2 linked regions of the Homo sapiens genome follow. The protein of the gene in region 2 interacts with the protein of the main gene of each other region in a pairwise test. Each region holds a gene or a part of one and is shown on either strand. Other genes may lie near its edges.

Region 1 (6,999 bases), on a different chromosome or scaffold from region 2:
TCAATTTCTACTTGATTAGAATGGCTAAGCTTACTAAGCTAGAAATGTAGAAGGTAATTTCAATATGAATAATCCATACTCAATAAAAGAGAATTAGCTATGTCAAAAATATACATAAATATGAGTAATACTTGAAACCCAGTAAACATGTAAGAAAACTATTTTGCAAAGATAAGTACTCAGTGTTCATCATTTTCATGCTCTCCCATGGTAGGTGGCTGGCTGCAACAGAGCTATATTAATGAGCAGCATCAATGTTATTCTTTTTTTTTTTTTTTGAGAGATCAGTGTTATTCTTTAGGCCGCTATTCATTTTAACCGTGCATATTTAAATGAAGCAAGAGTCAGCAATTTTGTTATAACGAAAATATGGCATCCTATAGCTAAGTATCTTGAATACCTAACCTCTGCTTATTTTACCCTTTTAACTACCACATGATGCTTTGATTTTAAATGAAAAAAATATATCTGTTTTCCAAAAAAGATTACAAAGTGAGTACTTTGTTTTAGGGTTCATATTTATTTTCCAATTACTTTTATTGATCTTACAGAATAGTGTCTTGGTCTCTCTACTGCATTCAACAACACCAAAAATCTACAACGCTGGTGTCAACAGCAATAATTACTAAAAATTGAGCAAGCAATTTATGACTATCCGCAATTATGGAAAATGGATTCAAAAGGCATCTGCTGCAATAACAATAGTATTTATGTGTGTTAAGACACAAAAAGCCAACATAACTTTAGTACCTCAGGCATTTTTCTAATTGTGATATTTATACAAATTTTGGAAATTGATGAGTACACTGACCAGTCACCGATAATCATGAAAAAGAAAATACACATAAGTGCCTATTTAGCTAATACTGTGTTTAACTCTAGCTTGACATTGTGTGATACTGTAATCCCTTTCAAAGCACTGGAAATCACTCACATTTGCCTCAAGCTTTTTTTTAAAACAGAAGAATAATCTGATGAAGATGCCCTTATTTCAGAAACTGAGGTCATTACTATCTTTGCTTGAAACATTTTAGAAGAGTTGCTGAACAAAAAGAACACTCAATCTTAGTCTACTGGATAAACAGCGACATCTAGTGGTCATTGTATCCCTAAACAAACACCTTAAAAGCACAAACTCAAGTATCCATGAAATATATGAAATTGCCACTATCTTTAACGTATTTCCAAAGAAACTGTACAAGGAAATTATAAACACATTCTAGAAAGATTCCCTATGATTCAGGAATAATATAAATTGAAGGAAAAGTTAACCATGGACTTCTAATTTTTATTCTTAACAACTTTTTCATAGGTAAATATCCTTCAGAGGTTTTTATAAAAATCCAATTCTTATTTCTTCACGACTCAGTTCTTGTTTCTAACAGAGTGACATAAAGAACTCAAACACTATGAACTAATGAATAATAACTTCTATGGCTCTAATGAATACATGGATTGGTATGTCCCAGCAACAGATTCAGACACTCCATATGACAACACACTCATGTGCAAATTTTAAATGTTATAAAAGCTGCTACTCAATTATTGTTTGACTGAGTTTACTCTGGAGGTTTTATTAATTTTTTTGTAAATCGGGAACATATAGTTCATCAAGGTTTTCTAATACAACTAGGTCATGAAATGGAATTACAGCATCAAAATAGAATTAAAAAATCATTTTGCCATCAAAAAGTCATTGTTTCCTAGGTATGACTTTCCTATTAATGATAAAGTTAGTACATTCTTTGGCTACTGTTGTTCACTGGGACCTCGGCACATCATCTCTATGCCTGCTACCCACCAGACACCAGAAATGGCTTCTAAGGCCTTCATGGCCAGCTCCAGGGAAACTGTCTTCCTGTCACCATGAAAGACTTTTTCTGAGCACAAACCATTTGTTGCAGTTCCAAGGTTATTCATGGGACACACCGAGACTGTCCCTTCCACATGAACTGAGGTATCCCCCCCAAATCCCTTAAACATACATCAGTGAATACAGGTATGCATCACTATCTACCCATTTAATTCATCTTCCCTAGATTAACTGCCAAGTGCTAAGACTAGACCTTTCTAACAAGTCTTTGTTGATGATCATAAACAGATGAAAGATCTGGACAACAATTTTTGTGTTTACAGACCAGCCTCCCCAAACGAAGAATGAACATATTTGGTGCTCCCAGATCATCAAAATACCCACTACCCAGCCAATACCTAGACATGCTAGTGATTAGCTGGGACATTCACCTAAATGCCACTTATGTGTATGAAGAGGGCTACAGATGCCACCCTTTCTACCTCCCACTGACTGGACATGACCATCCAGAGGAATGGTATCTCACAGGCACCATCTAAAACAGTAAGGAACCATTACCACTTGGTAATTCAAATTGCGGACCATCTGAAATGGTAAGGAATCATCTTAATATCACTTAAGACTTTTACAGAAATGCTAGGCAGATGTGTTCCAATGAGCATCAAATTTCTAGTATATAAGCACTTAATCTTACTAAAGCAATGTGTGTGATTCATAAGCATTTAAAATTAACACTGAGGTCAAAGTATACATATAAAGCCTGGGGTTCTCTCCAGCCCACTATCCCCAGTGATTCCCTAGTCCTCTCCTAAGAGTTCTCAATTACAGAAGTGTATGTGTGGGCAGTAGCCACAAGTAACTAAATGTGAGGTTTACCAATGAGACAGGCAGCCATGAACGTTGGAGGCACCCGAAGCTTACTTTCTATTGCTCTACCCTATACAGACTTCATTCTCTCATTTTTCCTTCTCTTATCTCTTTGCCTTCCTATTTCTGCCTGGAGCTGGCAGTTGTAGAATAAAGCAATTTTGTGTCCTATTGCTACCTGAACCCCTGTGTTGTGTAACAAAGATGACTTCTGAATTTTAGGAAAAAATACTGCTAACTACTCAATAAGACAGACTCAGAGAGCCACGGGCAATCACAGGGTCTAGCTAAATGCTTGGATGAGCTGCCACGACAAGATCCCAACAAACCTAGAAATAATTTGGTCTGGGTCTAAATGCTAATATCATGCTGCCAAGCCTCTTTCTGAAAAGCATAAAAGCAAAATATCCCACTCCTGCAAGCAAACCAACCACAAGGGTCGTGCCAAGAACTTTTGGGGCCCTTTTCTTGGCCACCCGGAATGCTGTTGGCAGCACTGCAGAGATTAATATATTGTTGACATGTCCTAAAACCTTGTTAAATGTTTTTCTCTTCAAGACACGCTCGTAATAGGTTTCCAAGTTTGGTCGCTTTCCGTTTCCCCAGTTTCTCCTTGCAAACCCCAGGAACTTCAGTCGATGCAATGTGACAGCGAGTGAGACGTCTGCCAGGGTGAAGGATTCACCGCAGAGCCAAGGTTGCTGGCCCTCTTCTAATTAGAGAAAGGGACATAGAGAATTAGAGGCAAGCACTCTACAGACAGACTCCAGCTGGTATCAGTGGTCTCACCCTTAAGGGTGAGTGTGAGTATAGCAAAAGATGAAGGACATTATATATTTATTTTCTTGACAGCCACACTCAGAGAATAATTTCATGCTTTAAAAAAAAAGTCCATGCAAACGTATCCTAGGCCAAAGGAGACTTGCTTGACGTCTGTCAGCCATCCAGGTCCCTATGTAAGATTGCAGCCACTTGAGCTTATCACTTTGTAAAGGACACTAAGGGGTTGGGAGCCTCCAAGCTAGTTAAAAGAAACTTCCTTCTGGTTTATAAAAACAGTTCTGCTTTAGAAAAATCCATAAAGCTGAGTCTGAAACATCACTCAGTGGCTACTGCTCTTAGTCATTTAAAGCAGAAGAGCTTTTGTGACAGGTAACATAGTCTTCAACTCTAGTCGGAGTAGCATAAATGGCCCATGTGTATACACCTATGGCTTAACCCTGAAGCCAGTTCACTGGCATGCTTACCAGCCAGTCTACAGATGCCCACGTGCTGGTCCTTATTACACTTTAGATTGGAGGCTGTCTCCCTGCCTAAGGAAAAAACTAGAGGGAATATTCAAGCAATTACTCAAGTTATTCAACCAAACTAACTACTGTAATTACAAATTTGTAAAACAGGTAAAAATCTCCCAAGCATAATTTAAATTATGCAGAAAAATCCTTCACGTAGATGCAGATTGAGTTACAATTAGACACCTGGGTTTTTCTGGGTGCAATATCATTATTGCTATCATAATTAAAACTGCCTGTGAATAACAACAATGAAAAGCAGATTACAGAACGTTTTTGGTGAGACCTAAGAATGTTCCCATGAATAATACTGATGTTGAAAAGAGAGAAAGAATATAAATGAGAACCTACCTGGGGTTTCTTCATTTCTTCTTTGCAATTCAGTTTCAACCTGATCCAAGACTTTCTCCAACTCATCAAGAATTTTCTTCAAATACTTGACATTGTCATGATCAAGCAGCTTTGACTAATTAACCACCAAAAAAAGAAACCAAACATATTATTTGCACCTTTAAAAAAAATAAATCTAGGTAAAGCAGATACAAACTCTTACAGAGTTCAGCCTATTTTAGACAACGAGAAGAAATAGAAAAACTCAGCAAAAAAAAAAAAAAAAAAAAGAGAGAGAGAGAGCTAAGTTGAAGGGAAATATCCCAGCTGTGAAAATGACCCAGGAGCAGACCCACCACTCACTGGCAGCTCCTATGAGGCCAGATGACCACAGAAGGCAAAGAATGGGAGGGACACGAAGAGCCATCTGCCAAGCCCAACTCAGGAAAAGAATTCTAGCAGCCGTAATTGAAAGAGTAGCTGAAGGGTCAGGGATGAGTAAGAAGTCCGAGTGAAGGAGTTAAACGGCGAGTGGAGAGTCAGTCAAGTGACTGTGAGTGCAGGTGTTTCTTCTGAGGAGCTCGTTTAGCTACGATAGGATAAAGGAAGGTGGGAAGTTGGGGAGGGTTGGGAGTGCTGCTGTTTTCTACACTTTTAATATGAGAGAAGCTTGCAATAGTTGCTGGGCCCGGGGAAGGAATCAACAGAAGGAGAAAGGCTGACCATAAAGCACACTCCTCAGGGGGCAAAGCAAGTCAGGGCGACACATGGAGGGATGTAGGTCTAGCGAGGACTTCCAGTGGTGGAATACCTGAAATGACAGATTCTAGAATATGTTATGAACTTCCTTTGCATTTCATAACTTTTTTGGCAACCAGCATGCTCAATATCTGCTTGTTAAGCACTTGTCATCAAGTTTCAATATCAAGTCTAATAAAAAATTCTTTCTAAAAGGAGAACATAAGCCAAAGGTAACATGTGTACTGGTGAACTGCAATATTTAAAAGAAGATATTCTAGAAATAGTGGTACTTTACAAAAAGTAGAACATTTACTCCGTGCAGTGTATGTCAACTGAGGACAGCTGATTGGCTTACTTTAAGTCGTTTCTGTTTTGCAATGTATGCTTCTTGTAAATCTGGGTTTTCTTCAGCAAGTTTCTTCAGCTCAGACTCTGTGTTTCCAATTTGGCCTGATAATAAAAACATTTTGGAAACAGAAAATTATTTTCTCCCTTCTACACCAGTAACAAGGAGAAGCAGAGAAACTCAATGACAAGAGCATGAGCTCTGGGGCTCATGCCCTGCTTCTCTGCCTTGGGCTTACCCTGTCTATGCCTCAGTTTCCTCACCTTTCAAATGGAACCATAAGAGTATCTGCCGGCTGGGCGCGGTGGCTCACACCTGTAATCCCAGCACTTTGGGAGGCCGAGGCGGGAGGATCAGGAGGTCAAGAGATCGAGACCATCTTGGCCAACGTGGTGAAACCCCGTCTCTACTAAAAATACAAAAATTGTCTGGGCGTGGTGGCGCATGCCTGTCATCCCAGCTACTCGGGAGGCTGAGGCAGGAGAATCACTTGAACTCAGGAAGCAGAGGTTGCAGTGAGCCGAGATGATGCCACTGCACGCCAGCATGGAAACAGAGCGAGACTCCATCCAAAAAAAAAAAGAAAAGAAAAAAACAAAGAATATCTGCCATGAAGACTAAATGAGAAGCTTCATGGGAAGCACTTAGAGCAAGGCCCAGCACTTTACAGTGCTCAGTGCAGGCTTGCTGCTCCGCCTTCCTCTACCTTTCAAGCTTTCTATAATGAACTCCTATATGAAGGGAGGAAAAAGCCTTATTTTTAAAAAATATTAACTATAGGTCATAGAATTATAGTCAAAACTCTTGTTTCAAATACTATAAAGGGTATTTATGAAGAGGAGGAGGAATAAGAGGAAAGAGAAGCAGGAAGAGAGGGCAGTGGAGAAAAAGGAAGAGAAGGGAGAAAAGGGAAGAGATGAAAAGGGAAGGGAGAGGAGAGGAAAAGGAGGGGTATCAAAAAGGAAAAAAAGAATAATAAGAATAATAAAGGTGAGTATCACATAATGGGGAACACATGGTTTCTGGATTTAGAAGATCTGAGTTTGAGTGTTTCTGATCAACATTCCCAAAGTGTGACCACTGCCACAATCCTTTCCCTTCTTATCTCCAATTATCTCTGCTATAAAGCACACCTCCTGCTCCACAGATCATGCACTGACTATTCTCATGACAGGAGGAAGGCAGAAAGCTGGATGTCACAACTCAATCCCAATAAATCTACTATCACTGAACATAGAGACAGAGTAATAGTTAGACACCCTCTAGTCCAGTTTCCTCAAATAACGAAAACAACAATTAAGGACCAGTAACATGAACTCAACTGCCCATAATCCTAGGCAGATCCCAGGTTTTCAGATTCCTAGTCCATCTGTTCATGAGAACATGTTATATTCTTTACTCTTCCATAATCCACTCTTCTGAGTTTTACCCAAGATTGGCCCTCAAAGCCAAGAGCTGATAAATCAGGTCCTATAGACAATAAATGTCCAATTGAGCAAGTGAAGCACAGATTAATCCGACTGGTTCATGGATCGATCCATAACATGCACATCCATGAAGCAAACTCAACAACCCTATTCCCAATCTTCTTTTAGTGACCATGAGACATG
Region 2 (7,748 bases):
TGAGAAAGGCTCCATCCCATTTTCTAAAGAAAAGGCAAGATAATTAAGATTTTTTTTATCCTTTCACTCCTTCTTTGATTTATTCATGTTTTCAAATCAAACATCCTTTGGGCACTTGTTAGATATTAACACCTAAAGCAGGTGTCATTGAAATAATACAAATTACCAAGGGGTAAGATTAATTTTGACTGTAAAGTTTGGGAAGAGTTCTGTAAGGGAGCTAATCAGCTGGGCCAGGATATGTACAAAAATAATTAGGGACAGGTACAGGGATGTCCAGCAAGCATGGGGTTCAACCGGACAGTCACGGAGGTAGAAGAATGTCTGTTGCATCTTCAAGGACTGGGGAGCTATTTGCTCGAAGGATGGGTAGGTAAATTGGGGTGGCACAGGTCCAGTAAAGGAGAGGGGTAGGTAGGCACTGAATTGTGAAGAATTTTAAATCCCAAAGTAAGGAGTTACTTTTGTTGATTATATTAACTCTACATAGTGTGTGGTACTGAGAAACCTGTTAAGGGGCAGGTGAAAGAAAAGAAAAAAGAAGTAGAATCTTAGATACAAAGAAAAGCCCATATGGTACTGACATAGGTTCAAGCTCCAGACCTCTTACTGACACTGTAGCTATTTTTTTCTTTCTACATAAGCAGACAAGCTCCTTCTTGCCTTAGTTTATCATCCTTACAACCAACCTTTACCCTTTCTCCTTCCCTTCACAGGACACTAGTAATTAGGCAAAAAATGTAGATTCTGAGGAAATTCAAAGAGTTTTGGTGGGGGAGGGAGAGGAAATGTGATGCAACTCCATGAGCCTTAGTCATGCTGCTGATGTGAGGTCACTATTTACCACTTCAATCCAGCCGCATCAATCCAGCCGGTTCTTCTGTCTGACTAGCATCCATTTACCCCTCTATCCCAGTAGTTCTGAAAAGCCATCTATGTGTTCCTTTGTGTAATGTAAAGGGCAGCCTGACTTCATATTTATGATCTTGTTCAATAGGATGCCATCTTATTCTCTGTTGGGCATGGCTGAACTTTTGACATCAACTTTCCCTTAACAACAACCCCCACTTCCAACACACACACACACACACACACACACACACACACACACACACGGCCAATATGTTCTAACTAGAAATCATCTAAATTCACAGAGCCTCTTCCCTTCACTTCATTATCCTCATGGCCTCATCCTAAACAACTCGGTTTTTTTTCTCGATTCCATTCTTTATCTCAGTTCAAATGCCTCATCTCTCCCAAAGAAGCTAAGGAAGAAATGTTTTGTTTCACCTCGAAAGCCATTTATATCAGGCTCAGGGCTCTCTCCATGTCCTACAGCATCATTCTTTCGACCATGAGCCTTGCATACTCCTGCCTGGCCATATAAGTGGCATTCTTAAAGGTTCATTTGGTTCCTCAAACGTATTCCACATTAAATAATATCCACATGTTGGCTTGTTGAGAGAAGAAGGTAAACAGTTGGGGGCATCAACAAAAAATCAGGTGAGGGGAGAAAGGAGAGATAGTGAGTGTGGCCCCTTAGGCATGCTGAGTTCAGTTACAACAGTCACACTTGGACTGTATTCAAAGTTGCCCACTCATCCACCACAGCTACTCAAAGACATTTAACTCGCTAGCCATTATCCAACCGCATTTACCAGACGCTCAGTCTTGAGGGAGGAGGGTAACGCAGTAGGGGATGCGGAGTATTGGTGTCATCCTACAGGTTAAGGACAAACATGCCCACTACAAGGACAGGGATACATCACCAACTTCAATTCAGCCCAGGGTTCATGTAGTAAGGGGTGGGTGATTCACTCCTGTGGGGGAGGCAGGGCGGGGGCGGTTGGGGGAGGCGGTTAGGAAAAAGGAAAATCGTGGAAAGTCCCAGAGGAAGTGGTAGTCAGTTCCCGATGCATGGCCATAATGTACATTGGCCATAAGGTACACTCAGCGCCTCTGTGTCGCTGCTCCCCCTCAACCTTTTACTCACCCACTCCTCCCAACACGCGCCTCACCCGTGCCTCCATGCACAATCCTGAGCCTCGGCATCCCCGCGAGGTGCAGGTTCCAGCTTTGCCCACCACCCCACCACCTACCTACATGGACACGTGTGGTTGGAATGCCTCCCGGGGCTAGACGGCCACCCCTCTTGGGCTGCGAGCTGCTGCCCATCTCTCCACCCACCCGTCCTTATTGTGTCATTTGCCCGGTCTGATGGCAGCCCCAAAGCCGCTCATTTGAGTGGGCTAGAATGGAGAAGAGAGGAAAAGGGAGGCACACATTTCATTCACTAGGACCCAAGATGACCTGCCGCCTCTCTCCTGCCCTTCTCGGAGCCCCCCACCCTCCCTTAGCCCCAGTGGGGCTGGAGGCACGAACAGACAAGGCAAGGGGAGCGCAGTCCGTCAAGGTCCACAGCTGCACACAAAGCCCTTCACCTTCTCCTTGCCTTCCAAGCTCCTCCCTGGGCTTGGTTTCTCCGAGGGTCTCTGATGCCCCCTTCGGTGGTCGGCGGGACGGTCCTATTCCCTCTTGCATCGCTGTCTCCTCCCTCAAGTCTCAGCCTCCTCCTCCCCGCCCCTCGCCACATACCCCTGAGGGAGCTCAGTCCTGGCTTTGGGGGCGCGAGAGCACCCCATAAGCCCGGGGCCCTGCGCCCCAGGGGAGCGGACAACGGTCCACTTTACGAGGCACAACTTCGCCCAGCCGTTCCGCCACCGCACTCGAACACACACCCCATCCCCGCAGCGGTCGGGTCTGGTCCCGATCAGCCCCATCCCCGGGAGGCGGTTGAGCCCAGCCACAGCCACGCTCCTACCTGCGAGGCGGCTGGCGCGGCGAGGAGCTAGGGCACCGAGCGCCCCGGCCCGAGCCCCGCACCGCAGCGCGTCTGCCCTTGTGCGGCGGCGGCGGCTGCAGCGGCCGCTGGGTGGCCCGCTGGCTGGCTGGTTGGCTGGCTGGCTGGCTGGCTGGCTGGCTGGCTCGCTGGCTGGCTGCCCGGCTGACTCCTCACTGGGGCTTCCTGTAGGGCTGGACAAAGGACATTTCCTGGGAGGAGCGGGAGAATGTTCCCAGCATGCCTCGATTTGTAGTTCCCGGGGACTTCCTGCCACCGCAGCAGCGGGCGCCCTGGAGGTAGCTCGGGCCAGGCTAGGACTCCGGGACAGGAGGAAAGGCGCTCGCTGCTTCTCTAAGCGCTGTGGGGAAGGGAGCGGCCGGCGGGTCTTGCCCCACGCCCCGCCCCGCGGCGCTCAAGGAGCCCGCTGTCCCGGAGCACGCGAGATCCCAGCGCTGCACTCCGAGCTCGCGGCACCGGTTGCGGGCAGCCGGTGGGACGCTGCCGCTGAGCTGTCCCATGGTTCGGGAGGGCTCTGCGGTGGGAGAGGCCTTTTCTTTAAAAACTGGGAAGTTTGTGGTGGGTTCGCTTTTTAAAAATTAATCTAAAAACACAAAATCTATCTTTTAAAATAGATTTTCTTTTTGTCTTTTACGCCGTTGACATCCTGCTGGGGGCCGATTAAAGAACTTGATTGCTCACCAGGAATTCAGGTTCCTTAAGATCTTGGCGCTTCATCTTTAAAACCATACAGAGCTGATTGTTTCCAGATCCCGACCCGGTGACATTCCTCCCTCATTGTTGACCTTGTCCCAAACATCTTTTCAAGAAAAGCAATTAAATTGAGATTGAAAATAAATTACGTAAATTAAATATTAGACGTGAAAACCTGTGTGCTGCTGAATTAGGAAAGTGCTGGACTTTCTGCGTATCTTTCCTTCATTAACCTTTAGGATTCAGCTTCTTGGTCCCATAAAACAGATGTGCTGGCCACTGTATATTGAGTGTGTGTATTTCGGGAGTGGAAGGGTGAGGAGAAGAGGACATTGGCTACAAGAGAGGAACTCTACTTCCAGCCTAGCAAGAGTCTATGATGCCCTGCACATGTTTTTGTCTATTTCTGGGACCACAGACTCAGGACCCTTAGAAAATCAAGGAAGGACCACATAGAGACTAAATGACTAAAAGCTATATTCTCTCCTGGAGCATGAGCAGAAAGTAATAAACTGAACTAGGAAAGGACAAGTTCTAGGATGCTCTAGAATGTGTTTGAAAAGTAATCAGATAGAAAAGTCTCTGGGAGGCCGGGCGCGGTGGCTCACGCCTGTAATCCCAGCACTTTGGGAGGCCGAGGCGGGCGTACTACGAGGTCAGGAGATGGAGACCATCCTGGCTAATACGGTGAAACCCCGTCTCTACTAAAAAAAAAAACACCAAAAATTAGCCGGGCGTGGTGGCGGGCACCTGTAGTCCCAGCTACTCGGGAGGCTGAGGCAGGAGACTGGAATGAACCTGGGAGGCAGACCTTGCAGTGAGCTGAGATCATGTCAGTGCACTCCAGCCTGGGCAACAAAGTGAGACTCCGTCTCAAAAAAAAAAAAGAAAGAAAGAAAGAAAAGTCTCTGGGCTTGGTGGCTCATGCCTGTAATCACAGCACTTTGGGAGGCCGAAGTGGGAGGGTCACTTGAGCCCAGGAGTTCAAGACCAGCCTGGGCAACACAGTGAGACCCTGTTTCTACGAAAAGTAAAATAAAATAAATAGCGGGTGTGGTGGCGCGTACCTGTAGTCCCAGCTACTCGGTCGTTTAAGTGGAAGGGTCGTTTGAGACTGGGAGTTTGAGGCTGCAGTGAACCGTGATTGCACTCCAGCCTGGGTGACAGATTGAGACTCTGTTTCAAAAAATAAGGTCATAATTACGTGTCACTTCCACTTGTCATTTCACATTTTAAATCCATATGATTAAAACATTTGGGTGAAGGGTTTAGCTTACATTTAAGTAAAGTTTATGCTAGAGTTCTCTTTCTCTAGAGATCCTTAACCTCACGGATAAGATGGCCTGGATTAAAATGTAGAATTGATGAGAAGCATGCAGATAGGACTGTTCACCTCCCAAAAGTTCCTGTTGTATGCCCACCCTAAAGGTCCTGCTGTATGCCCACTCTGTTGACTGTCCACCTAAATTAATTGTGCTGTGATCCTTGCATTTTCTGGACCCTACAAATTACTGCTCCTTCATATTCTCAACCTGGTAACATTCCAGTGAAACTAATCTCCCCATCTCCACCCCAAAGAATTGATTATTGTTTTGCAAATCAAGTAGCCTCTAATAGTGTTCAGTCTGAAAAACATGATATACTTGCTTGTAGCATTTAACATATAACATTGCCCATTGAAACTATTTTTTGCCTTGCTTTTAATACAACACACTCTCCTCCTTCTCCTACACTTCTAACTTGAGCTCAGAATAATTGAACTTTCACTCATTATTTCACGCCATTCCAAACCTGTCCCATCCTTTTGTTTCCAATCTCAGTTATTTTGTTACTTCAACAAAGTTTTGTTTAACATTTATTCATGCTAGTCTCCATGTCTGGAGTAGACATGTAACATTCAACAGTAAGATATTTTACTGAGTAACTACCAGCTATGTCTTACCCCCAAGAAGCCCACACTCCAGTTGAAAAGACAGATGTCACAAAATTACTTCACAGTGTTTAAGGGCTATAATGCTGCCTTATACTGGGGTTCGTGTTCTGTAAAAGTGGGGCTCTTTCCATAAGCCTTCTGTTCCAGTGAGTGGCAGGAGTGGACAGGAGTGGCCAGAGGAAGGCTTGGGAGGGAGGAAATACAGACGGTAAAGAAGACATGTAGTATGTGAAATTTGGTTCTGAACAGGGTGGTAGCTGAGAAGGAAGTCGGATCAAAGGACATTCTTCTGTTTGTAGGGGTTTTATTTGTTCGGTTTTTAAGATGAGAGAGCCTTGAGGATGTTTAAATGCTGATGAGAAAAGTCTTGGAGAGAAACAAAGGGTAACAAAGAGGAACGAAAGAGGATAAGGGATTCTTATTCAACAAATACTTGTTGAATTAACTAATTCCTGCAACTTAGTGTTGAAAATGTTGAGATTGAAATGACCAAACTGCATATTCCCAGCTAAGATACGCAGAGTCTGAGACCAGAAGGAAATGGCATTTCTTTCCTCCTTGTCATATGCTCTCTCCTGCCCTTGAGGCCCTCAGGGGAAGGTGACAGACAAGTGAATGAAAGGAGAGAATGGAGGCTTCCTCCACTGTTGAAGATTAAGTCTTTTCCAAGTTGACAATAGGTTGGAAAGGCACACCACAACTTCAGGAAAGTCCAAACTTTCAAGCCTGTGGATTTTCATTTCATCTTTAAACTAAAAAAAATTTTACCCTTGCCCTTTTCTTTTTCTTCTTCACCACTTTGAGGCAAAGTAAATAATGATTCTCATCCTCATCTTTCAGAGAGTTGAGTCTGGACAGATTTGCTTACATTTTTTTAAGCTTTCAAGTATAAAATGGATGGACCTCTGTTGTTTTTCTTAACCTAGCAAGCATCCCTTTCCCTTTTTTTGGTAACAGCACCTTTGAGAAAAAACCCCATTTCCACCCTTAGGTCTTGTGGTTTAGAGAAGGGCAGAGCCCATCTTCACCTCCACTTCATTGGCAGGTAGTGATCAAGACCCGCCAATTAGCCAATTCAGTGTTGTATGAGGGATAAGCTATTAAAGGAAACAAAGCTGAGAAAAGGGGTGTGGGAAGGGATGTATGCATAAGCAAATTTTTATGACTTGTTTGATCATGCCTGAAGCCAAGGTACCCTTAGACTTTTTAGTTACATGAGCCAAAACATTCCCTTCTGGGCTTAAGCTATTTTGGGTTAAGTTCTATCTCTTGCAGCCAAAAGAGTTCTATATAGCTGGAAGTGGGATGCTGTAGTGCAGATCCTTAAATGTAAAATTGGCTGAGTTGAGAAATGGTGAAAGTAGGAAAGATCCCTCTGTGCCAGGCTAGAGAACTGGAAATTCTTGTGATATGGTAGCCAGGAAACTGAGTGAGAGGTCTCAGACCCCAGCATTTCCAGGGTGGAGTTTGAGAGGTCTTGATTGACAAATGTCAGGGTTTTAGAGAGTTTGGTCTACTTATAGTTTTTATAAATGTTCCAAAGAAAAAGCCATGCTAATGTTGAAACTGGCCTATGTAGTAGCAGAGAGGAAAAAATTACAGTGTGATTAAAAGATTCCCCTTCTACCAGTAGCCAGCAAACCCAAATGGTCTGGAGTCAGATATATTGAGCCATGCCACGTTAGAAAACTAAAATCCTCTGCCTCTTACACAGTGACAGCAAAGGCATAAGTAAAAAACTGATAATAGACTGTCTCCTGAGTCTACATCAAACTCCTCCTGCTGTGCTGTTCCTGCCAGAGGAAGGGAAGAATTAACCCCATTTTAATTGGGTGACCATATCATTTCTTATCAAAATGGGACAATTCTGAGTGTGAGTATGGGTGCTATTAATAATTATACCTAGGTGACAGCTCTAAAGCAGGTCACCCTAATTAAAGAGCTATCTACTAGGACACCATCTTGCATCAAAAGGCCACTCCATTAGTCCTCCTCATCTGCAGATAGTTATTTCAAGTTGCCCTAGGCAGAGGCCAAGATGGTGGCTGTTAAACTGAAGACTGTTAAAATGAGTCATCTCTAAGGCTTTTCCTTAAAAGACAGAAACTCCCAGGACAGGGTCTAGAGCGTAGATAGACTCCATACCTCTGAAATACAAGAGAAGGCGGGGGGTGGCTAAAACAATTCGGTCCCAAGAACGGGAATCCTTCTCAATTCCCTTTACAGTTGTGATCATGGAGGAAAATAGTCAACAGGAATCCT

What was found.
Region 1: the proteins of ZNF697 (region 2) and GDAP1 interact in binary tests that used the Homo sapiens proteins (3 or more experiments, as listed by UniProt).

What each region holds. Positions count from the first base shown.
Region 1 is NC_000008.11:74,360,378-74,367,376, reverse strand, and holds the end of GDAP1 (ganglioside-induced differentiation-associated protein 1), read right to left. Parts: intron 5,494-6,999; coding exon 5,399-5,493; intron 5,114-5,398; coding exon of another isoform or gene 5,003-5,113; exon of another isoform or gene 4,558-5,002; intron 4,439-4,557; coding exon 4,324-4,438; intron 3,393-4,323; coding exon 3,010-3,392; 3' UTR 501-3,009; downstream 1-500. UniProt on the Homo sapiens protein: Regulates the mitochondrial network by promoting mitochondrial fission.
Region 2 is NC_000001.11:119,645,250-119,652,997, forward strand, and holds the start of ZNF697 (zinc finger protein 697), read right to left. Parts: upstream 3,018-7,748; 5' UTR 2,442-3,017; intron 1-2,441. UniProt on the Homo sapiens protein: RNA-interacting protein with a high number of miRNA targets. Acts as a damage-induced regulator of muscle remodeling by mediating the interferon gamma response in muscle cells.